Linked DNA regions of Homo sapiens. The protein of the gene in region 4 interacts with the protein of the main gene of each other region in a pairwise test. Each region holds a gene or a part of one and is shown on either strand. Other genes may lie near its edges. The genes, in order: TTC33, RINT1, BRMS1L and TXLNA.

Region 1 (8,094 bases), on a different chromosome or scaffold from region 4:
ACCATCTTGGCTCACTGCAACCTCTGCTTCTTGGGTTCAAGTGATTCTCCTGCCTCAGCCTCCAAATTAGCTGGGATTACAGGCATACACCACTACACCCAGCTAATTTTTTTTTTTTTCGAGACGGAATCTTGCTCTGTCGCCCAGGCTGAAGTGCGGTGGTGCAATCTCGGCTCACTGCAACCTCTGCCTCCTGGGTTCAAGCGATTCTCATGCCTCAGCCCCCTGAGTAGCCACCACGTGGAGGGTGCCACCATGCCCAGCTAATTTTTGTATTTTTAGTAGAGACAGGGTTTCACCATTTTGGCCAGGCTGGTCTTGAACTCCTGACCTTGTGATCTGCCCACCTCCGCCTGCCAGAGTGATGGGATTACAGGCGTGAGCCACCACGCCTGGCCAAATACTGCTTTATATACCTATCTCTGTGTATTTTTTATTTATTTATTTTTTTTGAGACAGAGTCTTGCTCTCTCATCCAGGCTGGAGTGCAGTGGCACCATCTTGGCTCACTGTAACCTCTGCCTCCGGGGTTCAAACAATTTTCCTGCCTCAGCCTCCTAAGTAGCTGGGATTACAGGCACCACCACTATGTCCAACTAATTTTTTTTGTATCTTTAGTAGAGACGGGGTTTTGTCATTGAACTCCTGGTCTTGAGTGATCCATGCTTTCGCCTCGGCCTCCCAAAGAGTTGGATTTACAGGCGTGAGCCATCATGTATCTGTCTTCTTTATGACTTCTCTAAAGGGCCTATTAGATTGTAAATCTGTAGATTATGTGCAATCTTTTTTTTTTTTGAGACGGAGTTTCGCTCTTGTTGCCCAGGCTGGAGCATAATTGTGCGATCTTGGCTCACTGCAACCTCCGCCTCCCGAGTTCAAGCGATTCTCCTGCCTCAGCCTCACGAGTAGCTGGGATTACAGGCGTGCACCACCACACCTGGCTAATTTTTTGTATTTTTAGTAGAGACGGGTTTTCACCATGGCCAGGCTGGTCTTGAACTTCTGACCTCAGGTGATCCGCCTGCCTTGACCTCCCAGAGTGCTGGGATTACAGGCGTGAGCCATGGTGCCTGGCCGATTAAGTGCAATCTTAAAACTAATCTGTTTGCATGAGAATCTTCTATCCAGAGACTAAGTATACTCAGAGAAAACAACATATAATAGATTTAGACCAATGATTCTCACTTGGAGGGCAGTTTTACCCCCAGAGAACATTTGCCATGTCTAGAGACATTTTTGTTTATCACAACTAGGAAAGGAAGCTGTATTGGATTTAGTGAGTGTAGGTCAGGGATGTTGCTGAATATTCTACATTATAGAGGACAGCCCTTCCAAAATAAAGAATTACTCAGCCAAATATGTCAGTAGTGCTGAGGTTGACCTTTATCCAGACTGTAGTGGAGTTCTTGTGACTAAGCAGTATAATATAATGAATAAGAGAATGGACTCTGAAGCCAGACTGCCTGAATTTGCATCCCAGCTCTGCCAATTCCCAGCTGATACCTTTGGTTTCTACTCTTTCTGTGCTTCTCTAAAATAGTACTGAAAACAATAACCATACCTACTTCATATGATTATTGTGAGGATAGATGAGTTAATACATGTAAATCTTTTTTTTTTTTTTTTTTGAGATGGAGTTTTGCTCTTTTTGCCCAGGCTGGAGTGCAATGGCGTGATCTCAACTCACTGCAACCTCTGTCTCCCGGGTTCAAGCGATTCTCCTGCCTCACCCTCCTGGGTAGCTGGGATTACAGGCACCCGCCATCATGCCTGGCTAATTTTTGTATTTTTAGTAGAGACAGGGTTTCACTGTGTTGGCCAGGCTGGTCTTGAACTCCTGACCTCAGGTGATCCGCCCACCTCAGCCTCCCAAAGTGCTGGGATTACAGGTATGAGCCACCGTGCCCAGCCAAATACATGTAAATCTTTAGTGCCTAGAATGTAGTAAACAGTCAATAAATGTTAACATTGTTAGGATCTAAACTGTTAACTTCAAAGATATCCACTCCTGGTACCTTTGTGATTGTGGGTTAGCCCAGGAAATCCCCAAATGTACATACTTACTGGTCTACTGAAGCTGAGAATATATTTGCTTTATCTTTAGCCCTATTATGAGTACTCCCATTTTAATGGCTTTTAGTCCATAAGCATATTGTCAGTCACTTTCTTTCACACTTCTATAATTTTTTTCCCCAGTGTTTAGGGCAACACCGTAGCTTCCATCTTTTGTGTTCTAGTACATTAAGATAATGCATTAGGATGTGTATGTGTACAGTATATATGTACGTAAACACACAGGATTGTATTAAACATACTAATTTTTAAAACCAAAACAAAAAACTCTGACCTTATTTTCTAGGCAATTCGAAGTTTTCAAGTAGCCCTTCACATCTATCCAATGAACCCTGAAATATGGAAAGAAGACCTCTCTTGGGCAAGAACGCTCCAGGAGCAGCAGAAGGTAGCACAGAGGATTAAAAAAAGTGAAGCACCAGCTGAAGTAACACACTTTTCACCAAAGTCAATTCCAGACTATGACTTTGAAAGTGATGAGATTGTTGCTGTTTGTGCAGCTATTGCTGAGAAAGAGAAGACAGTTTCAGCAAATAAAACAATGGTTATTGTGTCTGCTTCTGGGGCCATAGAGACTGTAACTGAAAAGGAGGATGGTGCTACACCACCAGATGGCTCTGTTTTTATCAAAGCCCGATGAAGCAGTATGCATAGGATTATTTGAATCTGTCTTTTTGATTGCCTCTTGAAGTTTTGACATAGAGACATTTACTCTGGAGATAGATAGGAGAACGCCTGGTTGTAAAATATGTTTTTCAGATGAGGCATATAAAAACTAAAATGGCAGGATTATTGTATAGTGTTTGGAATATGCTTTGATAAGTTATGATTTATATTTCTCAAGGTTAAAATTCTGAGTAAAATGGTCTTTGATTAATAAACTTAGTTTAATCTGAATATGTAAATGAATACATTTTAAAGACAAAACTTGAAAAATGTATTCTTGAATAGTGAATAATTTGATCAATGTTACTGAAATGCTGTCTCAACTTTTGTTTTATGATAAAGGAAGTGTGTGATTTCCCTCCCTCTGAGAAATATACTGCGCTTAATATTTGCTGTCTTTTTCTTGCTTCATTAGAGTAAGTCTGTCAGAAAGCTTGAATATTTTTGACATTCATTTTGATTCAAAGTTGTCATTTGGTTATATGTGGAATCTTTGAAAGTTTGGCTGAAAATGCACACAAATGTGTACATTCTGAACATTTTCTGAAGTTTCTCTTAATTCTGATTTGTGTTTCTGTTTTGACTTTGAAGTTGTAACAATGATAGTTGTCTCCTTCAGTATTTGGTAAAAGTGTAAAGTATTGATAAATATGAGAATGATGGTTTTATTTTTTAATTGTTACAGTAAGTAATCCTTACCACAAATGAGTCATTTTTAAAATATGCATTTTTAAATGAATGGCTTTTACAGATAGGTTAATGACAATTGTACTGCTATATTATCCCAGTCAAAACCAATACTTTCTTTTCTTTATTTTACAAAGCTTTAAAAACCCTGGAAACAACTTACTTCTTGCTTGTGTCTTTCCATTTGATGACTGGGAATTACTTTTCTAGATAACTTTTTTTGAAACTACTCAGTGAAATGAAAAATAATTACAATTTTAAATAGCTAATTATATCTTTCTAAAAATAAAAAAGTAGGGCTGTTATTAGAGTGCCAATGAATAAATAACTTAAGCACAAAATACATAGAAATTGGAATGTGATTTATAGTACAATCTCATGAGTATGAAAAGGCTATATTAAAAAAAATTTTATTGAAAGTCCACAGTCATATTCACAAACCAATACTGTCATTGCTAATCTGAACTATTATTTTTATACTATATATTGTAGTACAATAATATAGAACTGTTGGGTTCTGTTACTTCTGACACTCAGGAAGATACTATTGGTGTATTAATTTTATCTTTGTTAGAGATGAAAGTAGCCCACTTTATGTTAAAGATCTTACTACTGTTGGAGCTTATAAGTAATGATCTACATTTTTTATGAAGATGGTTTTTAAAACTTTTGTTTTATTGGAATGCATATCTCTTTTCAGGGTTGGAGAAATTAGCACTTGCCTTGAAAAGAATATTCTTTCCTTAAGTTATATCATCAGAAAATTAGCTCTGGTTAGAGAGGTTAGTTTCAGAGTGCTCCAAAAAATATGTTAATTATTTTATTTTGTTTAATAAAGAACATTCTCAAAACGTAAATAGGTATCTAGAGAAGTGAGTACTCAACATTTGGTATATTGTTTTGAGTAATGGATGTTTGTTTTTTGTGTAATTTGTGAATAAATAGTTTTTTTCTGCATTTTGAAGATTTTCCTATTATTTTATGTTGTTAGCTTTTGAAAAATTAGATTGATCTACTTAGTGTCTTTCTTATATGAACTTAATATATTTAAAGTACCTTGCATGGTGCCTCACACATGAAGTAATGCCAGCTATTTCAGTAAATGCTAGCTATTTCTATGAAGAACTTGAGTTAGTTTGGAGATATTTAACCTCAATTTCCTCTGATTTTAAAAAAGGAGAACTTTTTTTGTAATCCTTTCCTTATCTGAAAGTAAGAAGTCTCTGATTCCAGTATTATAGGAGAGATAGTGGGATTTTTCTTGACAGGGTCTATAGCTCAAGTCCCAAAGAGGCAAGACTCAGGATGGAATGCATGTGGCCACTAGGCCCTGTTATAAGAACCTAGTGTTTCCTCTGTACTGGCATGGTAGGCCAAGTTAGTCTCTTTCTTACCCAGATATAAGACATAAAATAGTTTAGACATAAGACAGAGGAGAAAAAGAAACAGTAAGTTATGGAGAAGGAAGGCAGCTCATTTCTGCAGGCCCCTCAAAATGCTTATTTTAGCTCATACTCTTCTATGCGTGAAGAGAAAAATGCACCCATTATTTTACAAGGATGTGAATACTGATATACAAACATAGACTAAGCTTGTTAATTTTAATAACAAATCTTTATGAATCTGAAGAGAATTGATGTTCATGATAATGATATAGATGTTTAATATACTTTCTGAAATAACACTGTTTACTGTTCAAGTTATATTGACTATAATTTACATTATTCTTGTTTGAGAATTGTATGGCATAGACACTCATTAGTCAGAGTGTCTAGACATCCAGACCATGCCTGATAACACAAGAATCATATATCATTCTCTAGAAAACAGGCTGTTTGGTTATAGAGTATTTATCTTAAATATATTAACAGACACTACATAAACATTGAAAAGCCATGCAAGTTATAGCTCACAGGAGCCAGATCTACTGCAACTGGGGCCTACATACAAAATTTTATGGCAGTGGTTTCAGTATGACAATCTTTTGAATTGATGCCGTATGGTAAAACTATAAAGATTTTTTAAAAGCTCTGTCTCAGCTAGAATTTTTAAGATTATAACTGAACAGTATAGCCCTTTTAGTTGTTTGAAAATTACATAATGATTCAAAAGCTTGTTTCACTGCCTTTCCCAGCACTAAGAAAATTAACAATCATTTCTTTTAATTTCCTTGAATCAGAGCCATTCTAAAGTGACTCTGGACCAGCAATTCTGAGCTATGATTTCATGATACATGTATTAATATCTAAATGAGTTGTGAGTTGACATAAGAACCATAGTTCCATAATAATTATCTTCAAATCAATGGATATCTTAAATGTGTTTTTTTCTTCCTTAGAGATTATTATTAAACTGATGTATTTGATAATAAAGAATTTTAGGACTGAGAAAGTTAAGTTTTTCTTACCAATAATAAGATATTGAAATATATAAATTATAAAACAGAAATAAAATGAAATAAAGGAGGTTATCCCTAAAGTCATTTACCTTAGTCACTTGCAATTAAATATGGTTACTTCGGAAGAAGAAGTGTGGCCCTAAAGCTACTGTAACATGAATCATGCCCTAATGTGCACTATATATGAACTACTTTGGTCAGAAGGCAGCGGCGGGTAAGGATGGCTTCCTCTCACAGTGCTTCTTAGGCTATCCATTTACCAAGGAATTCTAATCTCTTTCTCTCACTTCACCAGGAAAGGAGGGAGTTTAAGATATAGAACTGGGCATGCTAGCCTCTTTTTTCCCTTTTGTGGATTTGTCATAACTGCAGAGAACCGATGTTGTGGTCTCTTGCCAGCTACATTGTGAACCTTGCAGTGAAAGTTCTTTGCCTCTGCAAAGGGAGATTTGTGCTTGTGCAGAACTGCCCATGCCTTAGTAAGCAGGTCTGTCTAATTCTAAGTTCAATATCTGGTGGCTATTGTTGGCATAAACTTAAAGTACATCCTCTAACCTAGCCTTTTTCAGCAGTAAACTTAAAATATTGAATCTCCATCTGTCTGTGTCTCAAGTGGTTCAGAGGTCAGGAGAGGAGAGGGACATTATTTTATGACTCCCTCAAACTTTAACAAAGACTAGTGCAGATTATATTTCGAAGTAAGCATGAGATATATTAAAAACCACATGTGGGAATTCTTTCCTAATTTTAGAGGTTTTTTTTAAATAATGGAAATTCTATTGAAATTGAGTAGTGTTAATTACAAGGCAACAGGTAAACATTTGTTCAGGATATTTAAAAGGTCTGCTGAGTTGGAATTGTGACAGACCACATTGTTGACTCTAGATTGAATTGGAAGGGAAGAATGTGAAATGAATTAGGATATCCTCTGTTCACCTCTATTAACTTTCTTAAATGAGTATAACTTAGAAATAATAAAATGCAAGTATTTTAACGTTATAGTTGGGAGAGTTTTGACAAATGTAAACACCCACTTCACCACCACTACCATCCTGATATAGTGTGTGTCCATCACCCAAAAAGTTCTCTAAAGCCCTTTTGCAGTTGGTTCCCCTCCACCTGAACAGCCATCCCTAGTCAACTACTTTTCTGCTTTCTGTGGCTATACGTTAGATTTGACTTCAGAATTCTAGAGTTTGAAATAAATAGGCCATATAATATGCACTCTTTTTGTGTCTGACTTTTTTTTTGCTTAACATGATGCTTTTGAAACCCATCCATGTTGAGATTCATCCATGTTATCATGTGTATCAATAATAAGTTCCTTTTTATTGCTGAATAGTATTCTAGTATATAGATATACCACAATTTGTTTAGCTGTTCACCTATTGATGGACATTTAGGTTGTTTCAAGTTTTGATCTATTATGAATAAAGCTGCTATATATATAAATCACAATTCTATGTGTGGACATATGTGTTCATTTCTCTTATGTAAATACCTAGGGATGGAATTGCTGAGTCTTATGACCAGTTTATGCACAACTTTAAAGGAAACTGCCAAACTTTTCCAAATTATCTGTACCATTTGGGATTTCTGCTAGCAATGTATTAAATTAATTTCAGTTTCTCCATATCCTTGTCAATGATTGATATTGTCAGTCTTTTAAATTTTAGACACTTTAGTGGATATGTAGTAGTATTTCATTGTGGTTTTAATATGCATTTCCCTAATAATGTTGAGCATCTTTTCATAGGCTTATCTGACATTTCTCTTTTTTGGAAAGTAACTTTTCAAATATTTTGCCCATTTTTGATTTAAGTCATCTTCTTATTGAGTTGTAAGAGTTTTCCTTTCTACTGGATAGAAGTCCTTCATGAGCTGTAAGTATTGTGTATATTATCTTCCTATCTGCAGCTTGCTTGTTTGTTTTCTATATATATATATACATATTTTTATTATACATTAAGTTCTAGGGTACATGTGCACAATGTGCAGGTTTGTTACATATGTATACATGTACCATGTTGCTGTGCTGCACCCATTAACTCATCATTTACATTAGGTATATCTCCTAATGCTATCTCTCCCCTTTCCCCCCACCACACAACAGGCCCCAGTGTGTGATGTTCCCTGCCCTGTGTCCAAGTGTTCTCATTGCTCAATTCCCACCTATGAGTGAGAACATGTGATGTTTGGTTTTTTGGCATTGTGATAGTTTGCTGAGAATGATGGTTTCCAGCTTCATCCATGTCCCTACAAAGGACATG
Region 2 (8,077 bases), on a different chromosome or scaffold from region 4:
AACAAACAAACAAACAAAAAAGTAAAAAAGGTTTGGCTGGGCGAGGTGGCTCAGGCCTGTAATCTCAGCACTTTGGGAGGTTGAGGCAGGCAGATCACAAGGTCAGGAGTTCGAGACCAGCCTGGCCAATATGGTGAAAACCTGTCTCTACTAAAAATACAAAAATTAGCTGGGCATGGCGGTGCACGCTTATAGTCCCAGCTACTCGGGAGGCTGAGGCAGAAGAATCGCTTGAACCCGGGAGGCGGAGGTTGCAGTGAGCCGAGATCACGCCACTGCACTCCAGCCTGGGCAACAGAGTGAGACTCTGCCTCAAAAAAAAAAAAAAAAAAGGTTTTTAAGCTTCAAATGTCATCGATGTCATTGTACAAAGATATCTTTGTCAGAAACAGAAAAAAGAAAATATGAGAGAACAAATTACTAGGAAAAAATCAAAATGACAAATGCAACCACTAAATAGTATAAAGTGAGATTCTTTCCATGGCAAATAAACTACCTGTTTTGTGACATTTAATAAGTCCAATACACATTAGGCTTATTAATATTAATATCTAAATAATGATATGCCTAAGTGCAAAATGTAAATGTCAGATATTGGTCAACTATTTATGTAAAGATTAACAGAATATATACCAATGTTTTATACAGAGTATGTTCCTGTCTCCACCCCTACACCCCAACAAACAAAATTTCCTTTGTTCTACTTAACTTATATGAATTAAATTAAAAGATTTTTCACATGCTGTGAGAATCAGGAGGTGGTACTGACCTTTTCCCCCTTTCCTGTTCAGTGCAAGATCCAGAACCCAAGCTATACATTGTGCCTTCCCAGAGCAATTTTAAATTGACAATTTAGAGGGTAGGAGAGGCAATATTAACATAACACTATGCCTCAATTTTCCAACTAGAAAACAAATTGTAACATTTGCCCCAGCCTATATCTCAAGGTTATAAATGGGACTATATAATACAAATTATATATTAATTATACTATATAATTATATATAATATTAACGTATAATAATCTACTATTATGTACAGAACTCACAATGCCTTTTTTAAATCTTAAATAAAACAAGTGATTTGTGTGGTGTATCTGCAGATAAATGGAGGCAGGAAATGTTTTGTGAATGCTAAAGTTGCTGTATCTTAGGGAGGAAATTCTACCTTCATTTTTTAAAAAAAATTACACCCACTGAGCACAGTGGCTCATGCCTATAATCCCAGCACTTTGGAAGGCCGAGGACGGTGGATTGCCTGAGGTCAGGAGTTCAAGACCAGCCTAACCAAAATGGTGAAACCCTGCCTCTACTAAAAATACAAAAATTAGCCGGGTGTTTGGCGGGCACCAGTAATCCCAGCTACTGAGGAGGCCGAGGCAGGGGAATTACTTGAACTCAGAGGCGGAGCTTGCAGTAAGGCGAGATCGCGCCACTGCACTCCAGCCTGAGAGACAGAGTGAGACTAAGTCTCAAAAAAAAAAAAAATTACACCCTTGATGTGTAACCATTCAAATGTGGCATAGTACATTCTTAGTGAAATGACATTCTTCAAAATGACACACCGGTGGTTTGGGAGGTTTTTATGTGTCTCCTTTTCTATTTTTTGTAAAGAGCACTCCTAACTGCAAAGCAGTTTGAGCTGTGGAAAGAGGAACAAGGTCAAAGTCCTTGATATGATAGTCTACATCTATTATTTTATTAAAATGACAGCTCAGTAGGCATCAGACTACTTTCCAGGCATCTGAATGAGGCAAAGGTGGAAAATGGAAAGGGAAGGGTTTAACTGAGAGATACAAGGCACTCTGAAATCCTTCAAGAAAAAGGAGCTGAGATGTGGCAGTTATGACAGTCATGTGCTATGGACTGCTCAGAGCCTTCTTTCTGAGGCAGATTCTATCAGCCGCTAATGTTAAGGGCAAATCTTACTCCTAAGGGCCATGTGCTAATGTGGGCACCGTTTTTCTTACTGCTACACATTCCCAACTGTTTGCCACAGTCAAAAGAACCAAAAATCCCAATAGCAGAGCTATCACATGCTTTTCCCCTTCCTCTCCCAAAAAATGTCACTTCAAAGGTCCCTAAAGAGCCCTTGATTTGCAATAACCTGCCATCAAAGTAAAATGGCAAAAGTCCACAACCCTGACATATACTCCCGTACTAGGGAGGAAATGGTGGTACTGACCTTTTCCCCCTTTCCTGTCCAGTCCAAGATCCAGAACCCAAGTTATCCGTTGTGCTCTTGCCAGAGCAATTTTAAATTGCCAATTTACTGAAGGTGAACTAAACAACTGTCATTTGCCTCCTTTGAACCCAATTAGGGTGGTGGTCGTCTGTCCTAGATCATGGGCCCCTCCAAATTCCTGATGCTTAGTAAGTTGATGTTTCATTAAAATGACAGGCAGGCCCCAATTATTCTGAGTACTGTATGATAGGCAGACTTCCAGCGAAAACACTCTAGTCCCTGTACTAGGTATGGATCGGGAAGTGCTCTTCTCCAAAGCATCCCATATTTTACAATTTTAGAAAGACAAAAATATGTGTATCATGGTCATCAGTATTACCATATAAGCATATTGTGCAGAAAACGGTACTGCATCTAAAAGATAGGCAAAGAACCTTTCTATATTGCAGACCCTGGAAGGCTGAGTTTGGGCGGGAAGAAAAAGCTAAGGTGTTTGGAGCTGGCTTACTTTTCTCCTCGAGGTTCTTCCTTTCGTCACCACTTTCAGAGCAGCACTAGAAGAAGAACAGATGTGACAAGCACATTAAGATTAAAGTCGTGGATGGAAAGCATACGGGGCTCCCAAAGGGCACCCACTGGAGGCAAGAGAGGTTCCAGACGCTCTCCCACTTTCTGAGCGACCAGGGCCGTCCGAATCAGGTACCTCAAAGTGCCACTGTCCTGGTGCCACCGCCACCTTCCCAGGAGGTGTGTGTCACCTCCGCAGGACCTGGAGTTACCTTGCCTGCTCACTAGAGCCACCTCCCTAGAGAAATCTGTCATCTCACCAGGGCCGCCAAAGCCACTTCACGGGGACTACCGCCTCCTCTAGGAGGTCTTACAAGGGCCTCTAATCTAAGCCGCAGGAAGCACCTTCACAAGCTTACAGGGCCACCGCACCGGGACTATCTCCCCCGGGAGGTCTGTGCCACCTCAATGGGCCACCAATGTCCCCTCCCAGGGACGCCAGGGCCGTCTCACCGGGGCTGCAGGAGAGGCGCCGATCTCGCCGGCTGGTAGCATCTCGCCTCCGCGCGAGTCCTCGGCTCCATTCGCAGCCAGCGTGGCCTGTGGAGTCTGGCTAAGGCCAGCGACACACTCACTACCCAGCCTCGGAGGCCGTAGGACTGAGTGCCACAGCGACTTCCTCTCGATGTCTCACTGGTTTCTTCCTCTCAGCCCAGAGAGGCCCTGCCCGTGCAGCCGCCGGCCGTGCTCTGTTCCTCCCCCTCCTGACCGGAGGTCGGAACGGCCACTCAGGAAGCGGGCACCCTCCCCTATGGAGCTCCAGAGAAGGGATTCGCTCACTCCACCGCGGTAAAAGTCCCCTCCACTTTATTGAAGCTCTTAATGATGGAACTTTAAGATATCCCTCTCCCAACGCCTTAAATTCAATATGAATAATTTAAATTTATATTTTAGGCAATATCCAGATGTTCTGAGAGTGTGGGGGGCTTGTTGACTAGGAGCTTCGGTGCAGGGTTATTTGGTTCGAATATTTAGTTGGGGGTTTCCAATGAATGTCAGTATCTTTAGATATTTCTTTTAACGTTGGTCAGAGTCCCTAGAGATGAGCTTCTGATTTCCTGCCTAGAGGGTGTAGAGGTGGTTATAAGCGTTCTGGGAGCTGAATGAAGAGAACAGAGCATCTAACATGTGTTTCGCCCAAAACCCTGTCTTTTACCAGGGAGGAGGAAAGGGAGCTACCTAGCAGCAAGGGTTGTGTAGAGGACCTGTGGACTTGACAGCCTCTTAAACAAACTAACACGGAAGGAGTACCATAGAGACCATAACAAACAAGGGGGGGGGAAAGCAACCCTCAGAGGAAAAAGAAACCACACGGTGAGAAGAAAAATCAAATACATGTGCACAGAGATATATAATCGAGCTACAAATTACTATTGCAAGCATAAAACAAGGATGGCTGGGCGCTGTGGCTCACGCCTGTAATCCCAGCACTTTGGGAGGCCGAGGCAGGCAGATTACGAGGTCAGGAGATCGAGACCATCCTGGCTAACATGGTGAAACCCCGTCTCTACTAAAAATACAAAAAATTAGCCAGGCGTGGTGGTGGGCGCCTGTAGTCCCAGCTACTCAGGAGGCTGAGGCAGGAGAATGGCGTGAACCCGGGAGGTGGAGCGTGCAGTGAGCAGAGACCGCACCACTGCACTCTAGCCTGGACGACAGAGCAAGACTCCGTCTCATTTAAAAAAAAAAAAAAAAACAAGGATACTATTTTTTAAATTACCTATTATGGGAACATAATCGTATATATTTATAGTGTACATGTGTGTTTGTTTTTTTTTTGCTCAGGCTGGGGTGCAATGGCGTTATCTCTGCTCGCAGCAACCTCCGCCTCCCAGGTTCAAGCGATTCGCCTGCCTCAGCCTCCCAAGTAGCTGGGATTACAGGCATGCACCACCACGCCCGTCTAATTTTGTATTTTTAGTAGAGACGATGTTTCTCCATGTTAGTCAGGCTGGTCTCGAACTCCCGGCCTCGGGTGAACTGCCCGCCTTGGCGTACCAAAGTGCTGGGATTACAGGTGTGAGCCACTGCGCCCGGCCTTTTTTTCTGGGGCGGGGCGGGGGACGGGTAAAGAAATTTTAATGAGGATTCAAGGTTTGTAGGGAAGACACAGAGGACCGGCGCTCAGCCCCAGCCTCCTCACGTGTACATGGCTCCATGGAGGTTCTCCAGTCGGTTCTGCTGCTGCTGCTGTTTTCGAGCCTTATCTCGTCTGTGTTCCTCATAAGTGTAGTCATCAGTGGGCAGCTCATGGCGGCACAAGGGACAGGAATTTGTCTTGCTTAGCCAGGGCAGAATGCAACTGGAATGAAAAAGGTGTTGGGAAGCATCTCAATGGCAGTCTCCTCCTCAGATTCCAAAAGATACACGGGGCACTTGAGCTCAGCCTTGAGAGCCTCTGATGACTGTCCTGGAGAGGTTCTCAACCACAATCTTGGCAGCCGGTGGAGGCAGGTGGTGGTCCCAATCTACTACCAACCCCAAGTCTTCAAAGTCCATCCTATTCAAAAGTGACCTTACGAGCTCCAGCACCATGTTGGTTCGAGTCTCCTGCTTGAGGGTCCAACGGCTCACAGTCGTGTTCATCGATATAGGACGCCATGGCTGCCCAGCCGTCTGACATGTGATGTTTTGATACAGGTATACAATGTGTAACTATCAAATCCGAGTAACTGGGGTATTGATCATCTTGAGAATTTATCATTTCTTTGTGTTAGGAACAGTCCAATTCCACTCTTTTAGTTATTTTAAAATATGCAATAAATTATTAACTGTAGTCACTCTGTTTTATTGTTGTTGTTGTCGTCATTTGTTTTGGTTTTGGTTTTTTTGTTTGTTTTTTGAGACAAGTTCTCCCTCTGTTGCCCAGGCAGGAGTGCAGTGGTGCAGCCATAACCCACTGTAACCTCAAACTCCTGGGCTCAAGGGATCCACCCACCTCAGCCTCCTGAGTAGCTAGGACTATAGACTGGCACCACCATTCCTGGCTAACTTTTTTTTGTTGAGACAGTGACTCGCTATGTTGCCCAGGCTGGGCTCTACTCCTGAGCTCAAGCGATTCTCCTGTCTTGACCTCCCAAAGTGCTAGGATTACAGCCATGAGCCACTGCACCTGGCCCCTAACTGTATTTTTGGACCCATTAACCATCCCCAATTTATGCCTTCCTCCCTGCTACCCTTTCAGCCTTTGGTAACAATCATTCTACTCTCTATCTCCTTGAATTCAATTTGTTTAATGTTAAGCTCCCACATATGAGAGAAAAGGATACTATTTAAAAGGAGCATTGGCTGGGCACGGTGGCTCCTGCCTGTAATCTCAGCACTTTGGGAGGCTGAGGCAGAACAAATTGCCTGAGGTCAGGAGTTCAAGACCAGCCTGGCCAACATGGTGAAAGCCTGTCTCTACTAAAAGTACAAAAATTAGCCAGGCCTGGTGGTGGGAGCCTGTAATCCCAGCTACCCAGGAGGCTGAGGCAGGAGAATCTCTTGAACCCAGCAGGCAGAGGTTGCAGCGAGCCGAGATTACACCACTGCACTCCAGCTGGGCAACAAAGCAAAACTCTGTCTCAAACATAAATAATTAAATAGATAAATAAATGAATAATAAAAGGAGCACTCACTTGTAAATGGGGAGGGTAAAAATAAATAAAATAAGAAAAGCATTCAGAGATGAAAAAATATGACAGCAGAAATTAAAATTTCAAGAGTGGAAAGATAGGCCAAGTGCAGTGGCTCACGCCTGTAATCCCAACACTTTGGGAGGCCAAGGCACGTGGATCGCTTGAGGCCAGGAGTTCGAGACCAGCCTGGCCAACATGGTGAAACCTGGTCTCTACTAAAAATACAAAATATTAGCTGGCCATTGTGGCACGTGCACCTATAGTCCCTGCTGCTTAGTAGGCTGAGGAACAAGAATTGCTTGAACCCAGGAGGCTTTTAATTTCTGCTGTCATATTTTTTGTTCTCTGAATGCTCTTTTTATTTTATTTATTTATTTTTATCCTCCCCATTTTCACAAGTGAGTGCCCCTTTTATTATTTATTATTTGTTTGTTTGTTTCTTTGAGACAGAGTTTCGTTCTGTTGCCCAGGCTGGAGTGCAGTGGCACGATCTTGGCTCACTGCAACCTCCGCCTCTGGGGTTCAAGTGATTCTTCTGCCTCAGCCTCCCTAGTAGCCAGGATTACAGGTGCCCGCCATCATGCCCGCCTAATTTTTGTATTTTTAGTAGAGATGGGGTTTCATCACATTGGCCAGGCTGGTCTTGAACTCCTGACCTCAGGTGATCTGCCCACCTCAGCCTCCCAAAGTGCTGGGATTATAGGCATGAGCCACTGTGCCTGGCCTTTTCTTTGTTTTGTTTTGTTTTTTGCTTTTTTTTCCTAGAACATTTATCAACATTTATCTTCCCACACTTTGTTTGTTTGTTTTTATTTTGAGACGGGGTCTCACTCTGTCACCCAGGCCGGAGTTTATTGGCAAGATCTTAGCTCACTGCAACCTCTGCCTCCCAGGTTCAAGTGATTCTCCTGTCTCAGCCTCCCAAGTAGCTGGGACTACAGGTGTGCACCACCACACCTGGCTAATTTTTGTATTTTTAGTAGAGATGGGGTTTCACCATGTTGGCCAGTCTAGTCTCAAACTCCTGACCTCAAGTGATCTGCCCGCCTCAGCCTCCCAAATTGCTGGATTACAGTTGTGAGCCACCACGCCTGGCCAAAAACTGGAATTCTGTACTTAATTAGTGAACTATGAATCAAATGTGAGGTTAGAATAAAAATGTGGGGTTTTTTTTAACACTCTTGTAGTCAAGAATAAAAATAGACATTAAAGATCTCAAAAAATTTAGCTTTTGTTTTATTTATTTATTTATTTATTTATTTATTTATTTATTTATTTGAGACAGAGTCTCACTCTGTCACCCAGACTGGAGTGCAATGGCACGATCTTGGCTCACTGCAACCTCTGCCTCCCAGGTTCAAGCAATTCTCCCGCCTCAGCCTCCCGAGTAGTTGGGATTACAGGCGCCCACCACCATGCCAAGCTAGTTTTTGTATTTTTAGTAGAGACAGGGTTTTGCCATGCTCAGGCTGGTCTCGAACTCCTGACCTCAGGTGATTCGCCTGCCTTGGCCTCCCAAAGTGGAATCACGGGTGTGAGCCACCGCGCCCAGCAAGCTTTCATTTATTTCTCCTTTCTCGGGAAGCTACTGAAGGTTGTACTCCACTAAAATAAGAGAGTAAACCAAGAATAAAGATGACATAGGATATAGGAAACAGAAAGATTCAATACAGGAACAGAGATGCCCTGAGAACAACTGTGCAATA
Region 3 (8,208 bases), on a different chromosome or scaffold from region 4:
TGTTTATTCACTTAATTTTTTTCTGATTATGACATTAGTAAATGTCTGTCGAGAAATAAGTCTAAAGAAAGATAAAATCAACTATAATCTTCCAACCAGAGGTAATCACTGTTAATAAGTATGTACATTTTTTTGGGGGGGGGTTTGTTTTTGAGACAGAGTCTTGTTCTGTCACCCCGGGTGGAGTGTAGTGGCGCGATCTTAGCTCACTGCAAACTCTGCCTCCCAGGCTTAAGCTATTCTTGTGCCTCAACGTCCTGAGTAGCTGGGATTACAGCAGGCATCTGCCACCACACTGGCTAATTTTTTGTATATTTAGTAGATACAGGGTTTGCCATGTTGCCCAGGCTGGTCTCAAACTCCTGGCCTCAAGTGATCCTACCGCCCCAGCCTGGCCTATTTTTTAAAAAACTAGCTAGTATGATTTTGAATCTACTATTTTCATATCCTAACTTATTTTCTCTTTTAAAAAATTTGTTGTGGCCGGGCACGGTGGCTTATGCCTGTAATCCCAGCACTTTGGGAGGCCAAGGCGGGCAGATCACTTGAGGTCAGGAGTTTGTGACCAGCCTGGCCAATATGATGAAACCCCGTCTGTACCAAAAATAGAAAAATTAGCTGGGCGTGGTCACACTTGCCTGTAATCCCAGCTACTTGGGAGGCTGAGGCAGGAGAATTGCTTGAACCTGGGAGACGGAGGTTGCAGTGAGATGAGATCATGCCACTGCACTCCAGCCTGGGCGACAGAGCAAGACTCCGTCTCAAAAAAAAAAATATATATATATATGTATATATACATATATATGTGTGTGTGTGTGTGTGTGTATATATATATATGTTTGTTGTTAGTAGGTAATGTGTGTATATATTTTTGAAGGCATAGCCTTATAATTTATAATGAAAAACAGCAGTCTTCTGTCCTATTTTTAAATTCTGTATCCCAGTGGCAATTATATTTCTAACTTGTGTATCAGTTGCTTCTGGAATTTACCCTCATATTCCTTTCTTAAAAAAAAATTTTTTTATAGAGATGGGGGTCTTGCTATATTGCCCAGCTGGTTTTGAACCCCTGGCCTCAAGTGATCCTCCTGTTTTGGCCTCCCAAAGTGCTGGAATTATAAGTGTGAGCCACTGCGCCTGGCCCTCATATTTCTAAATAAAGCAGTTTTAGACATTATCTATTGGTTTCCTATTATGGAAGCTGAGGATTTTTCTGTTTCATTCTTCTAATACTGTTGTGTTACAGTTTTTGTTTTAAATTATAAATATTGTTTACTGAGTCAAGAGTTACATTATGTTTAAAATTTTTCTTGTGTATTTTTTTAAACTTTGGAATTAATAATTGCTTCATTTATTGTTTGTTAGTTTTCTCTGTGTTTATCAATTCTTCCTACAGACCTTAGCAGATCTATGAGGGCCTCCTAATGCTGTTTTTTTTTTTAATTAAGCTAAACATGTACAGTTGTATTGATTTTTCATGAAGCCTGAGTATTCCACAAAATAAAGAGCATGTTACCTAATGGACTCAAGAAAAGTAAAAAAAAAAAAAAAAGCACTGGACCTCTCATAAGTTTTCAACTGTATGAAGATTTAAACTCCTGTCCAGTAAAGGTCAAAACTGCTTCTCGTTTTAAAGTTAGGTGTAAACAGTGTCTTCTGATGACTTCTAGAATGACCTAGAAAACCCCCTCATATTTGCTTCTTTCAGACACTGAAGTCCTAACGCTGTTTTCTCTGCGATCAAACTTATCAGATAATCCATCAGCCTCATTTTCTTCTGAAGGGCTCCCTCCTGGAAGCAACCCCTCTATCCCTCGTGTCCCCTATCCTCCTGCTCCATCTTTCATTTGGAGGCCAGCTGCATCTGTCTTCTTGGGGCATCTCTTTACCAGCAACCTGGATGTCCCCTTCACCTCTCCTCTGCTAGCATCTTATTTTCTCCTTAAGTTTGGTAGAGTGTATCTTTCAGTAGCATCCTGACAAAGGATTTCTAGAAGTTAGTTTTTTGAGATTTCTTGTATTGCTTGTCTATTGCTTTATAATTAATTACTCCAAAACTTAGTGGCTTAACACAACAATAAACATTTATTATTTTGCAGTCTCAGTGGCCAGGAATTTGGGAGCAACTTAGCTGGATGGTTCTGGCTCAGGGAATCCCAAGAAGTTGCAGTGAAGATATCAGCCAGGGATGCAGTCATCTCAAGGCTTGATTGGAGGCTGGAGGATCCGCTTCTAAGGTGACTCACTCGCAGGCTGGCAAGTTGTTGCTGGTTCTTGGTGAGAAGCCTTAGAGAACCCATGTGAGAACATGGGCCTCTCCACAGGCTGATTGAGTGTCCTCATAACCTGGTACCCAGGTTCTTCCAGACTTAGTGATCCAAGATAGCAAGACAGAGGTGACTGTTTTTATGGCCTAGATTTCTGCCAGATTTTGTTCACTAGAAGTCAGTTGCTATATCTTACCCATTTTTTTTTTTTTTTTGAGATGGAGCCTTGCTTAGTCACCCAGGCTGGAGTGCAGTGGTGCAATCTCGGATCACTGCAACCTCCACCTCTTGGGTTCAAGTGATTCTCCTGCCTCAGCCTGCCGAGTAGCTGGGATTACAGGTTCCTGCACCACGCCCGGCTTATTTTTTCCTTTTTTGTAGTAGAGACTGGGTTTCACCATGTTGGCCAGGCTGGTCTTGAACTTGTGACCTCAAGTGATCCGCCAGCCTCAGCCTCCCAAAGTGCTGGGAGTATAGGCGTGAGCCACCGTGCCTGGCCCATCCTACCCGTATTCAAGAAAGAGTATTAGTCTCTACCATTTGAAATTAGGAGTATCAAAGGATTATTGGACATGTTTTAAAACCACCACATCTTTCCTGTCTGAAAACATCTTGACGCTCACACTTAAGAGTATGGAATTCTAGATAGAAATCATGTTTCCTCAGAATTTTGAAGGCATTGTTCCATTATCTTCTAGCTTCCAGCGTTGCTTTTGTAAAGTCTCTTACCATTTTGATTCCTGATCCTTTGTACATGACCTGTTTTCTTCCTGAATACTTTTAGGATCTTCTCTTTATTCTTGTCTTGGTATTGTGGGATTGTGAGATGATGTGCTTTGATGTGGTCTTTTTTCGTTCATTGTGCTGGATACCCAGAGGAACTTTTGATTTTATGTATTTATTTATTTGAATTTTTTTTTAAAGAGACAGAGTCTCGCTCTATTGCCCAGGCTTGAGTACAGTGGTGCAATCATAGCTCATTGCAGCCTCCAACTCCTGGGCTCAAGTAATCCTCCTGCCTCAGTTGCCTGAGTAGCTGGGACTACAGGCCCACGCTGCCATGCTTAGCTAATTTTAAAAAATATTTTGTAGAGATGGGGTCTCACTGTGTTGCCTAAGCTGGTCTCAAACTCCTGGGCTCAAGTGATCCTCCTGCCTCCGTATCCCAAAGTGCTGGAATATAGGTGTGTGCCATTGTGCCTGACCAGATGAACTGTTTAATAAAAAAATTCGTATCTTCAGTTCTGGGAAATTTCTTATATATTGTTTCTTTAATATTTTCTTTTAGCTTTCATTTTATAAATTTAATCCTTTAGTCCATTTACTTTTATGTGTAATGTAAATTGTATAATGTAAAGCAAAAAATATTCAGGATATAGTTAAAATCATTTTTCTTTTTTTTTGAGACAGAGTCTTGCTCTGTCACCCAGGCTGTAGTGTAGTGGCATGATCTCGGCTTACTGCAACCTCCACCTTCTGGGCTCAAGCGATTCTAGTGCCTCAGCCTCCTGAGTAGCTGGGATTACAGGTGTCTACCACCATGTCTGGATAATTTTTTTGTATTTCTGGTAGAGTAGACAACGAGGTTTCACCATGTTGGCCAGGCTGGTTTTGAACTCCTGACCTCAAGTGATCCACCTGCCTCAGCCTCCCAAAGTGCTAGGATTACAGGCATGAGCCACCGTGGCTGGCCTAAACTCATTTTTCTCTTGTCATTTATTGTCAGATTCCCAGATGATTTAAAAAGTCACCTTTGTCATTTCCGCATAGCCAGAGTCTGTTTCTAAGTTTTAAAATTCTACTCTGCATTTTTTTTATTCCAGTGCAGTATGCTTAAAAAAAAAAAAAAAAAACTATTGTAGCGTTTTAATGGGTCACTCTCTGATAATAGCCTATGAAAATCTTCCAGGGCTCCAGTCCTGATAGAAGTTGAGAATTGTGAGGTATGTTAAGTCAGGGAACTGCCAAAGAGGAGTTGGTTCTGAATACAGGTCAGTGTGAGGTCGGTACAATAATGGAAGCTTGGGGCCACTTTCCTGGGGCTTTTTAAAGCTCTCCTGATGAGAAACAGCATAGGCGTCAGCCTGGGAAAGGGGTTATTAGTGAGCAGGATCAGTAAGTCTAGATGTGAAGACTAGAGGGATGTGGGATCTTGAGACCAAACCTATACTTATGAGTAGTATTTTTTTAAAAACCAAAGTAACTATTGAACATAGAAAACTCCACAGCCACCAAAGCAAGAGAGTTAGCCCCCTTCTTTTCCAGGTATCTTCTAGCTGTTCCATTAGGGCTTCATTTTCCATTCAGGGGAGGTTTTTGAGTGTCTTGAGAAGCTGGAGAAAAGGGAGAGAACTTTCCAAGAAAAAGAAAGAGAAATAAGAATGAGAATGGATTCATGGCAGTTTAAAGTATACTTCTGATATTTTTAGAGATGCCTTCAATGCTTCAAACATTTCAGTTTCATTGTGGCTTTTTAAAAAATAATAAAGAATGATTAGTGGATTTTTAAAAGAATTTCTGCTTGGCCTAATTTGTCAATAGGAAGAAAAGAGAATACACCAATTAAATGTTCATATCCTTAACAGCAAAAGGCTTATCACTCCAGCTCTGTATTTAGAGTCATCTTTGGTTGGGGAGATTGGATCTATTTATAGCTGCTACCACGGTCTTGTGGAGGGGAACTGCTCTCCCTTTTTCTCTGATATTTTCCGAGTTTTGCAGCACAATATAGATAAAGCTGGAATATTTCATAAGACTTTACTAAAGGCAAGGGAACAAGCAAAAGGAAGTAAGCAGAGAGAACAGCATGCAATGAAACCATGTTTGATATGAAATCTAGTTTTAGTTTTCAGCTTTGCTTTCTCCTTAGCACCTGGCTTGCCTCAAGTTTGTAAGCCATCTTTTCCCTGACACTCAGGAAACCCTTCAAGCATGTATAATTTCTAAATTTCAGACTCAAGAGAGAGGGCTTCATGATTGACACCAGGAATGCAGCCTACATGGGTGTGGCCTGTGTTTTCTACATGTAGTCATATCCAACTATATCCCAATAGCTTCCGCAAGACAGTCATATCTGCTATATCCAATTATCTAATATCCTTCACTAGAGGTAAACATGTGGCCATAGGTTTTTTTGTGTAATTGATCTTTATATATTATGTACATTTTATGGCTTTTTAAATTAGGGCTACAGTATTATATAATTAAAAACATGGACTAGAGCTAGTAGACCTGGGTTCTAGTCTATTTGCCAGTCTTGTATGTTGTAGCAATTCAATCTGTCTATGGTTTTGTAGAAAGATTTGGATATGATTAGTCTGTAATTTTATAATTTAGACTATAATTGAATTATTTTAAATAATCATAAAATTTGTACTTGAATCTTTCTCTTTGCCTATTTTAATATGATGCTGAGATATTAGTGAGGCATAATGACCCAATTATTATTCCTGTGAGAAAATATGATCCATTTTATAATGATATACTTTATAGGATAAGTTTTCCATGATGGTGACAGATGGGACCTACTTAAATTTAAAAGGGGCCATAGGGGTTTGCTATGAGTTTTTTATAAAGTAAATATTTACCTCTAAATGTACATCAGACATAATTTAGATGCTCTTATACAGAATGTAATTGCATGTAGTTAAATCTATATATAGATTCTATATTTTCTAGTTTTATTTCTTTCATGTATTTGACATTTCTTCTTTAGAATTTTTAATTGAATTGAAAAAGCAAACCAAAGCATCATATATTAAAGTACTTTAAGTTATTTGGTACTCTTAGTTAAGATACACCAATTTTTTTCTTTCTACTTAAGTATAATCTGTTTTTCTCCCCAGAGCGAAAAGCTGTTGCTATATGATACAGTCCAGAGTGAACTAGAGGAGAAGATAAGAAGGCTTGAAGAGGATAGGCACAGCATTGATATTACCTCAGGTAAGGAGAATGATATGATTGTGATGTTTGAGTGGCACCAGACCTTTGGTTTACTGTAGTGTCATATCGTATCTCAGTCTTCTAATATTAATATTATGTAAATGAAATGTCCCAGCAAAGGAGAAAAGGGGAAGAACTCTAAAGTGATGGTGATTATATTGTTATTGTTATTTGAATTCACACTTTAGAAAGATGTAAAAAATGGAGCACACGACAAGGGACGAAACAGAAGTATGACAGGAACCTACTGGCAGAATAGTGTCAGGGCTGGATGTGGTGCTGCACATCTATATCTACAGTCCCAGCTATGCAGGAGACTGAGGCGGAAGCATCCTTTGATCCCAGGAGTTCGAGATTGCAATTGCAGTGAGCCATGATGGCGCCACTGCACTCCAGACTGGGCAATCTTGTCTCCAAAAAAAAAAAGAATAGTATTGGAAATTAGCTATAGTATATGTTTTTCCTTGTAAGTCTTGAAAGACTGTTATGTGGAAGAAGGAATGAAAACCTTTTTGACATCATACAAGGTAGGACAAACTGATAGAAGTTATAGGGAGGTAGATTTTTGTTTCAGAAAAAGGAATAACTTATTAATGATTAGATCAGTCCAGTGTGAAATTGGCTTTTTCAGGGTGTTACAGAAAGGTTTTTTGCATTGAGTGGAAGGTCTACTAGGTTATCCTACAGTTCTTGAGTATATATTACTTTATCTGTTATAAAGTTTAGTTCTCTATAGGGTAGGCATGGTGGAGTCAGATAAGCTGAGCTCTAGTGCCAGTGCTCCCTCACCTACTAGTCTGGTGACCATGGACAGTTACTTCACTTTTCTAAATCAATCTCCTTGTCTGTAAAAGGAAAGTAATAAGAATACCTACCTCAGTGGTAGCTTTGGGGATTAGGTGAGACAATGCATGTAATATACATTTTACAAAGTGCATGACAATATGGTAATCAGTTCTTAGTCATGAAGTGCCAAATTGATTTTTGCTTTAATAAAGGCAGAGCAAAACTTAAACACGTAGTGCTCATGAAATTATGTACAGCTTAATCTATATATACCCAGCTGCCAATGAAGTTTTTTACGTTTTTACATGTAACTAAATAGCCACCATAAAATTAGAGTCTTTTTTCCTCCTTTGTTCACCAGAAACCCACTAATACTTAATCTTTATTTACCTGCCAGAGCTGTGGAATGATGAGCTTCAGTCAAGAAAAAAGAGGAAGGATCCTTTCAGTCCTGACAAAAAGAAGCCAGTTGTTGTTTCAGATATCCTTTTCCAAATTTTCTGTTTTTTTTTCCTTGATGTGCGTTTTTCCATTGTGCATGCCTTTATAACTTTTATTTGTAAACACTGACTTTATTTGCATGATCCTGTAATAAGCAAAAGATGATTTATTTATAAAACCGATTGAAGACAGAGGATATAGTGTATACTTTAGGTCAGGAGAGGTGGCAGAGGAGAAGAAATTCAATCATGATCTCAACTTTGAAAATTAATGTGACTTGTCGTTCACCAAGGGCTTTGATGTGAAACAGTCGTTTAGTATACAGTATGATTGTTTAATTCTCATGTGTACTTTTTTTTTCTTTTTGAGACAGGGTCTCACTGTGCCACCTAGGCTGGAGTGCAGTGGCACAATCATGGCTCACCTTAGCCTCAACCTCTCGGGCTCAGGTGATCCTCCCACCTTAGCCTCCCAAGTAGCTGGGACTACAGGCACGTGCCACTCGCCTGGCTAATTTTTGTATTTTTTGTAGAGATGGGGTTTTGCCGTGTTGCCCAGGCTGGTCTTGAACTCCTGGGCTTAAGCCTGCATTGGCCTCCCAAAGTGCTAGGATTGCAGGCATGAGCCACTGTGCCTAGCCTCGTATACTTTTTAAAAACATTTTTAAATGTTTCCAAAATTGGAGTGTAAATTAATACGTATATTCAGTTTCGGCATTCTCTATGGTACCATCCCTCTACCCCCATCTTTTCCCCTCCACCTTAAAAACCAG
Region 4 (8,208 bases):
TTCTGCACAACTTTGCAAACCCTGGGTGTTACTAAATTTTAACAGCTTGGTCTCTGGGGGTACAGAGGGGACAAATGCACATTAATCTGAAATCTGGAAGAATAGGCCTTAGGAGATCCGACTTGCTTCAGAATGGCACTTAGCACTTACATGTGTGCATGTGTGCCTGCATTTTTTCTTCCTTTTTTTTTTTTTGGGGACGGAGTCTTGCTCTGTGGCCCATCGCCCAGGCTGGAGTGCAGTGGCGCGATCATAGCTCACCACAACCTCCGCCTCCCAGGTTCAAATGACTCCTCTGCCTCAGCCTCCCAAGCAGCTGGGACCACAGGTGCACACCATCACGCCGGCTAATTTTTGTATTTTAGTAGAAACGGGGTTTCACCATATTGGCCAGGCTGGTCTCAAACTCCTGACCTCGTGATCCGCCCACCTCAGCCTCCCAAAGTGCTGGGATTACAGGCGTGAGCCACCGCGCCTGCCATGTGCCTGCATTTTTCTAGGGGGAGAATCTCACTTGATGTCACCTGATATACAGAGGGGCCCATTGGAACCCGCATTGCACAACATCCTGGAGTCTGGCTACTCCACGCTTTGGGAGCAGGGAGGGCTGTTGGCAGAGACCATCTGTGGACTAGCTGGGGGACCCTTGTGAGGTAGCAGTGGATGATGGCTCTCGGGCTGACTTCTTTGCCCAGGAAGAAGGTGTGCAGCGGGCCCGGGAGGAGGAGGAGAAGCGCAAGGAGGTGACCTCGCACTTCCAGGTGACACTGAATGACATTCAGCTGCAGATGGAACAGCACAATGAGCGCAACTCCAAGCTGCGCCAAGAGAACATGGAGCTGGCTGAGAGGCTCAAGAAGCTGATTGAGCAGTATGAGCTGCGCGAGGAGGTAAGGGTATCACGGACAGCAGTCATGGCCCAGAAATTGTGAGGTTTTGAGTGTGTGCTAGGCACTGGGACAGTACCTTTTCAGGCTTCATCCCATTCTCCCTTTCTTCCTCCTCCTCCTCCTTGGGAGGAGAGTAATGTTATTCCTCATAGATAAAAAACAGGTGTGGAGAAGAGACTCACTTACAGCCACACAGCCCCAGGTCCACAGTGCCTTGTCCCAAATGACTGGGCCAGGCATCTTTTGGAATTAGAACTATCCACATTTTAGAATGGAGGTACATGTATGGACTGTGTGTTATATAGCACCCTCAGCAGGGCCTTGGGGAAGCCAGACACATTAATGTATTTATGCAGTAGAACTTCCAAATACTCACCTACATTATGGGCTTACAATGATGCAGGTCAAGTCTGGCTGCCAGCTTATGACAATTTCCATTTTCAGAACTTTGTAGAATTTGGAATTGCAGGGGAGGGGTGTACCTGTGATCAGTGATGGACTCCAGAGACTGTGTCCACTGATTCCTTGCTGCTCCTGCCACTCAAAAGGCAGAATTTATCAGGCTGGGCGTGGTGGCTCATGCCTGTAATCCCAACACTTTGGGAGGCCAAAGCGGGCGGATCACCTGAGGTCAGGAGTTCAAGACCAGCCTGGCCAACATGGTGAAACCCTGTCTCTACTAAAAATACAAAAAATTAGCCAGGTGTGGTGGTGCACGGCTGTAGTCCCAGCTACTCAGGAGGCTGAGGCAGGAGAATTGCTTGAACCCAGGAGGCAGAGGTTGCAATGAGCCAAGATTGTGCTACTGCACTCTAGCCTGGGTGATATACCGAGACTCCATCTCAAAAAAAAAAAAAAAAAAAAGCAGGATGTCACTCCCTTTGTCACTGCGTTGGCTGCCACCCCAGGCACTTGAATCTTTGGATCTTCCCTGCCAGTCACCTGGCTGTTCTGGGCGCGTTCTCATCATGAGAAGGGAGACCTGCAGCCCCCTTACAGGGCTGGCAGAGGACCTGCTCTGGATTAGGCCCTTTCCTAGCCCCTGGGGTGTGGCAGTGGGTGAGACCGGGAAGATCTGCCCTCTTAGGTTCATAGGCCAAAGTGATGATCGTGTGTGCAGGACCTAGAGGGCGCTCCCCTGACCCACCCCTTTCCTTGCCATACTTCATCCTCTGGGAACAAAGCTGCTTGTTTGGTTTGAGGGGAGTTGGTTTGGTTCTTATCCCTCAGCGCTGAGACATAGAGGCTTCCTGGGCCACTACAGTGAGACACGAACTTCAAGAATCTGAATACCCCCGTTTTCTCTCCCCGCCAAGGCAAAAAAGGACTTAGTACTACCTGTGGAGAAGGAGGTGCAGGACTACCAGGCCCTGCTGCTTTGCATTTACAGCCCTCCCCAGACAGACACAGGCACCCTCATCATACCCAAACTGGACTTACCTGCTAGGCACCTTCCCTTCCCCATCCAAAAAAATGGAGTTATTTTCCCTTATTTCAGCAAGTCCAGTTGATTTTACCTTTGAAGTAGCACCTGAGTCCTTCACCTTCTCTCCATCCCTTCTCTCTCACCTGACACAGGTCTGCAGCGCTCCTCTAGTAGGCAGGACAGCCATTCCTTGGGGATGCACATGTCTAGTCTTTGCCTAGATATGGCAAGTCTTTGCCAACTGAGCTAGGCTGTTATGTTCTTAGAGGCATTGTTTTTGCCCATTCTTCCCATTTACAAGAGAATCAGGGACACAGAAGTGAGGGCTTCCAGCCCCATAGGTGATCAATCCTGGGGTCAGAGATTTGAGTGTGTTTATTGCTTGCCTTCTTGGGAGCAGATTCCATCCATAAACCATGTGCTTACCAAGGTCTGACTCACTGGGAGAGAAACGACGTGAGGTTGGAAAGCTGACCTTCCAGAGACTTGGGGCCCATGTTGTGTGGTACACATGGGAGTCCATCATATCAGATTGAGATGGGGGGCTGGGCAAAGTGCCCTGGTCTGTGGCTGTGGGGCTACCCTGAGAAAGGGAGCGCCTGACAAGCCGACTGCTCCCACCATCTTTGTTGCAGCATATCGACAAAGTCTTCAAACACAAGGACCTACAACAGCAGCTGGTGGATGCCAAGCTCCAGCAGGCCCAGGAGATGCTAAAGGAGGCAGAAGAGCGGCACCAGCGGGAGAAGGATTTTGTGAGGCTCAGGCCCCAGGGTTGGGGTGGGGGTGGGAGGAGACAGGCTGGGCTCTGGCTCAGCTCATAGCCGGGTTATATGGGAGAAGTCTGGCCAGACCAGGCACAGATTCCTTGAGTACCAGTCTGAGAGCAGGAAGCCTCAGTGGGTCTGGTGCTTGTGGCTAAAAACCAAACATAGCCCCTGGGGGCTTCTGACAGGATCTGGGGTTCTGTCTTGGAAATAGCTCCTGAAAGAGGCAGTAGAGTCCCAGAGGATGTGTGAGCTGATGAAGCAGCAAGAGACCCACCTGAAGCAACAGGTGAGAGCATATAACCTGACCCTGTGCCTTCAAGTTTCCCTCACTGGGCCCCATCCTGGGGGTAGTGAAATGGGACCCTCATTCTAGGACTGGCTGTGTCCTGGCTGCTATGACGCCTTGGTTGAGCCTTTGTTCTCTCCGGACCTGCACAGTACCTATGTGGTGGTGACCAGGTAGTTAGGTGGGCTCAGAGGACTTCATTTGTAGCTCAGAAATGTATTGCTTTTGAGGAGGTAGGAACAGAAGAGTTTGAAAATCAACATAAAGGCAAAATAAAAGTCACCCTAAGTCTCCTACTTTCCAGGCTTAGCATTTTGGATTATATCCTTCCAAATATATAGCTTTGCTTTGTTTTAAGGAAAAATAGTATCTCAATAGAATTACTGGTCAGAGAGTCAAGGACGGGTCTGAGTGTGTTGACCAGAGTGCCTCCCAGAGAAACCCAGTCTTATCTGTGGGCTGCTTTCTCCCCACAGCTTGCCCTATACACAGAGAAGTTTGAGGAGTTCCAGAACACACTTTCCAAAAGCAGCGAGGTATTCACCACATTCAAGCAGGAGATGGAAAAGGTAACTGTGGTCCAGGCCAGGCATGGCTGCTGGGGCATAAGCTGCTTCATTCAAAATTGTTGGGCCTGCCTTCAGGAAGCTCCCATCTGGGGTGTCTCAAGGGCAGGGCTGTTAGGAAGGTTCACAGCCTTTCCCCTCTTGAGGCAGTATCAGTGGTATGTATACACTCCAGGTTGTCCCAGGGAATGGGGCAGTCTTTTCTGTTTGTTTGGTTTTTTTGGGGGGTTTGTTGTTGTTGTTGTTGTTGTTGTTGTTGTTTGAGATGGAGACTCACCTATTGCCCAGGCTGGAGTGCAGTGGCATGATCTCAGCTCATTGCAGCCTTTGCCCCCCGGGTTCAAGTGATTCTCCTGCCTCAGCCTCCTGACTAGCTGGAATTACAGGCGCGTGCCACCATGCCTGGCTAATTTTTTCTTTCTTTTTTTTTTGTATTTTTAGTAGAGACGGGGTTTCACCATGTTGGCCAGGCTGGTCTCGAACTCTTGGCCTCAAGTGATCTGCCCGCCTTGGCCTCCCAAAGTGCTGGGATTATAGGCGTGAGCCACCATGCCTGGCCCCTTACCATTCCTTGTTATTGGTGGTGGACACCTCTGACTTCCTGGTGGTGAGGTGGCACAGAGGGCATTGACTGCATCCTGTAATGCCTTGCGCCTTGGGATCAATCATTCCCCACCTTGGAGACACAGGTGCAGTCCCCACCTTGGAGACACAGACCTTGGAGAGGCCAGCTCTGACCATTTCCTTCTGTCTGTCACATAACCTAGATGACTAAGAAGATCAAGAAGCTGGAGAAAGAAACCACCATGTACCGGTCCCGGTGGGAGAGCAGCAACAAGGCCCTGCTTGAGATGGCTGAGGAGGTGGGCTGTCTGTGATCTGCAGCCAGGGTGGGGGTGTGCACTTAGCGCATATCAGGCCCTTTCCTGTATGTTCTACCCATCAGTGACACAGCTAGCATGAGGTAGAGGTGAGATTTGCACACAATGTCCAAGTCCAAAGTTAATGCTGTTCTCTCCCCATGGGAGGTGGTGAGCCCAGTGGTAGGTCTCCAGTGGGAGTGAAGGGAGCAAATGGAAGAAAGGAATAAAAGAGCAGAAAAAAACGGGTGCCAGTGATGTGCCTGGTTTACATGTAAAGCAGCCCAGGTAGTTTGTGATTTCACAGCTTGTAATGTAGAAGAAAGGAACTAACGATGGAGCAGCAACTGCAAGCCAGACCTTGCTGAAAGTTTTTGGGTTTTTTTTGTCTTTTTTGCTGCTGAATGTTTTTAGGTACGTTGTTCATTGAACCTTCTCTTGAGCTCTGAGGATGGTATTAGTAGTCCTGTTTTATAGATGAGACAGGCTCAAAAGTCAAGTCCTTTGCCAAGGTCACGTGGTAGATAAATGGAGGAATACGTTATCTCCAAGCCGTGCCCCTTTTCTGCACCATGCTGCCCCACCTGACAGCCTAGTCATGGCTTCAACTAGGACTGTTTCCTAGAGGGGGCCAGCTTTGGACTCGGTCTGCTCTCAGCCTTGTTAAAGTGTTTGCCGCCAAGTGGTGATGGTAAGTGGGAGGTTGATGGGGCACGGCACTGAAGGTCTCATTTCTTTCCCTAGAAAACAGTCCGGGATAAAGAACTGGAGGGCCTGCAGGTAAAAATCCAACGGCTGGAGAAGCTGTGCCGGGCACTGCAGACAGAGCGCAATGACCTGAACAAGAGGGTACAGGACCTGAGTGCTGGTGGCCAGGGCTCCCTCACTGACAGTGGCCCTGAGAGGAGGCCAGAGGGGCCTGGGGCTCAAGCACCCAGCTCCCCCAGGGTCACAGAAGCGCCTTGCTACCCAGGAGCACCGAGCACAGAAGCATCAGGCCAGACTGGGCCTCAAGAGCCCACCTCCGCCAGGGCCTAGAGAGCCTGGTGTTGGGTCATGCTGGGAAGGGAGCGGCAGCCCAGCCAGGCCTGGCCCATAAAAGGCTCCCATGCTGAGCAGCCCATTGCTGAAGCCAGGATGTTCTGACCTGGCTGGCATCTGGCACTTGCAATTTTGGATTTTGTGGGTCAGTTTTACGTACATAGGGCATTTTGCAAGGCCTTGCAAATGCATTTATACCTGTAAGTGTACAGTGGGCTTGCATTGGGGATGGGGGTGTGTACAGATGAAGTCAGTGGCTTGTCTGTGAGCTGAAGAGTCTTGAGAGGGGCTGTCATCTGTAGCTGCCATCACAGTGAGTTGGCAGAAGTGACTTGAGCATTTCTCTGTCTGATTTGAGGCTCAGACCCCTCCCTGCCCTTCAGAGCTCAAGACAAGTAATACACCCAGGTCTTGACTGCATTTGTCTTGTGAGCAGGGCTTGCTTGGTCAGCTCAGGCCCTCCTAGCTGCTCTGGAGGCTCCTTTGATTCTCTAGACCTGGAAAAGGTGTCCCTAGGCAGAGCCCTGGCAGGGCGCTCAGAGCTGGGGATTTCCTGCCTGGAACAAGGGACCTGGAGAATGTTTTTGCGTGGGATGATGTGCTGGTCAGGAGCCCCTTGGGCATCGCTTCCCCTGCCCTTTGGTAGTGCCAGGACCAGGCCAATGATGCTTCTCAGTAGCCTTATCATTCACAGGTGCCTCTCTAGCCTGCACAAATGATTGACAAGAGATCACCCAAAGGATTATTTCTGAAGGTGTTTTTTTCTTTATTTCTTTTTCTTTTTTTTTTTTTTTCTTTTTCTTTTTTTTTTGCACATGACAGTGTTTGTATTGAGGACCTTCCAAGGAAGAGGGATGCTGTAGCAGTGGTGCCTGGGTGCCTGGCCTCCAGTGTCCCACCTCCTTCACCACCCCACTTGGCTCCTTTGCCATCTTGATGCTGAGGTTTCCTGTTTGGTGAGATCAGGTTGTTTGTGGTAAAAGAAAGGAAAGGGCTTCTGATGGCTTTGCCACAAGCTTACCTGTGGGTTTCAGTCCTGAGAGGCCACCACCAGTTCCCATCAGCACTGTCTCCATGCAGCAGTTGCTGGGTCCCATGTCCAGCTGCCTCTTTGGCTTCATGGGTTTTTCTGCTTCCTGCCCCCACCCCCACATGTGCAATCCTCAAGATTTGTCCTGATTCTATTTCCTGGCACCTCCCTGCCTGTCCTTGGGGATTCTACTTCTTCCTGTGTGGGAGCCCATAGCTGTTGTCTAACAGGTAAGAAATGAAATTGAACTATTGACTGGGCCCCAGAAATCCATAAAATGGCTGCAGACAGTTGTTTCTGTGTCCTGTTCTACCCCCACTCCAGTACATAACTACTATGTACTGTGTAGAGCCATTCTATATGCTGAATGTTCTGCTGTTGCAAACTTGCCAGGGTATTAGCCAGTGTTTGTGCCAAGCAGTTTTCTGGGACAACAGAATGACTCAGACCAAGATGGATAGGATGGTTAGGGCTTTGCTTCTTGCTGTTTTTCTTTGAAGCTAGTTCATTGTCCTGCAGGTCCCTTCATCTTCCATACCTAGCCCACTCTTTTAGCCCTTACCTTAAATCTCTCAGATAAGTTGGTTCACAAAGAATGTTAAGTACTGAATCATGTGTGACTGAGACCAGAGATGGCAAATGAATGGCACACCATTTCTCCTTCTCCTGCCCCAGGGCAGGTACCACTGATCTGCATCAGAGTTGCCTGCTATTCTCTGGTGTATCCTTCACATCTAGGTGCCCTCAAGCAGCTGTGTGAGTGTTGAGATCTCTGCCATCTCTGGCTGAGATACTGCTGTCCTGTGAAGTGTTTCCCATGACCTTTTTCTTCCCCTTTGAATCCCTCTGTCTGGAGTAGTCCTTGCCTCTTCCTGCTCCAGTAGGGCCTTTTCCCTACCCCAGCCCCTGTGCCAGGCTAAGCTGGTACAAGAGCTGCCAACCTCACAGAGTGTTTGCTAGGCGAGAGAGGTGCAGGGAAGAGGCAGAGGTATGCACCTTCCCCCTTGAAGAGAGGGGAAAGGCCTACAGTGGCCCACATAATTGCCTGACTCACACTTCAGCTACCTCTTAATGCCTGTGGAGGGACTGGAGCTGCTGGATCCCAGTGTGGTGGTGTAGGAGGCCACAGTGAGCAGGTGGCCCCAGCTGGGTTTCCCAGGTCAGGAATGTGGGCCCCAGGCAAGGTGCAGCCTTTGCTCACAGCTCCATCCATGTCTAGACCTTCAGGCCAGTCTGCAGATGAGGTTCCCTACCTTTTTCTTCTCTTCATTGACCAAATCAACCAATCACTACAGCTGCTCTGCTTCTGCTTTCCAAAGTAGCCCAGGTCCTGGGCCAG

What was found.
Region 1: the proteins of TXLNA (region 4) and TTC33 interact in binary tests that used the Homo sapiens proteins (3 or more experiments, as listed by UniProt).
Region 2: the proteins of TXLNA (region 4) and RINT1 interact in binary tests that used the Homo sapiens proteins (3 or more experiments, as listed by UniProt).
Region 3: the proteins of TXLNA (region 4) and BRMS1L interact in binary tests that used the Homo sapiens proteins (3 or more experiments, as listed by UniProt).

What each region holds. Positions count from the first base shown.
Region 1 is NC_000005.10:40,710,764-40,718,857, reverse strand, and holds the end of TTC33 (tetratricopeptide repeat protein 33), read left to right. Parts: intron 1-2,359; coding exon 2,360-2,713; 3' UTR 2,714-7,282; downstream 7,283-8,094.
Region 2 is NC_000007.14:105,527,485-105,535,561, reverse strand, and holds the start of RINT1 (RAD50-interacting protein 1), read right to left. Parts: upstream 3,362-8,077; 5' UTR 3,247-3,361; coding exon 3,205-3,246; intron 2,739-3,204; coding exon 2,693-2,738; intron 1-2,692. UniProt on the Homo sapiens protein: Involved in regulation of membrane traffic between the Golgi and the endoplasmic reticulum (ER); the function is proposed to depend on its association in the NRZ complex which is believed to play a role in SNARE assembly at the ER.
Region 3 is NC_000014.9:35,856,478-35,864,685, forward strand, and holds part of BRMS1L (breast cancer metastasis-suppressor 1-like protein), read left to right. Parts: intron 1-6,112; coding exon 6,113-6,209; intron 6,210-7,392; coding exon 7,393-7,476; intron 7,477-8,208. UniProt on the Homo sapiens protein: Involved in the histone deacetylase (HDAC1)-dependent transcriptional repression activity. When overexpressed in lung cancer cell line that lacks p53/TP53 expression, inhibits cell growth.
Region 4 is NC_000001.11:32,189,360-32,197,567, forward strand, and holds part of TXLNA (alpha-taxilin), read left to right. Parts: intron 1-695; coding exon 696-890; intron 891-2,951; coding exon 2,952-3,071; intron 3,072-3,297; coding exon 3,298-3,372; intron 3,373-3,848; coding exon 3,849-3,941; intron 3,942-4,705; coding exon 4,706-4,801; intron 4,802-5,542; coding exon 5,543-5,836; 3' UTR 5,837-8,208. UniProt on the Homo sapiens protein: May be involved in intracellular vesicle traffic and potentially in calcium-dependent exocytosis in neuroendocrine cells.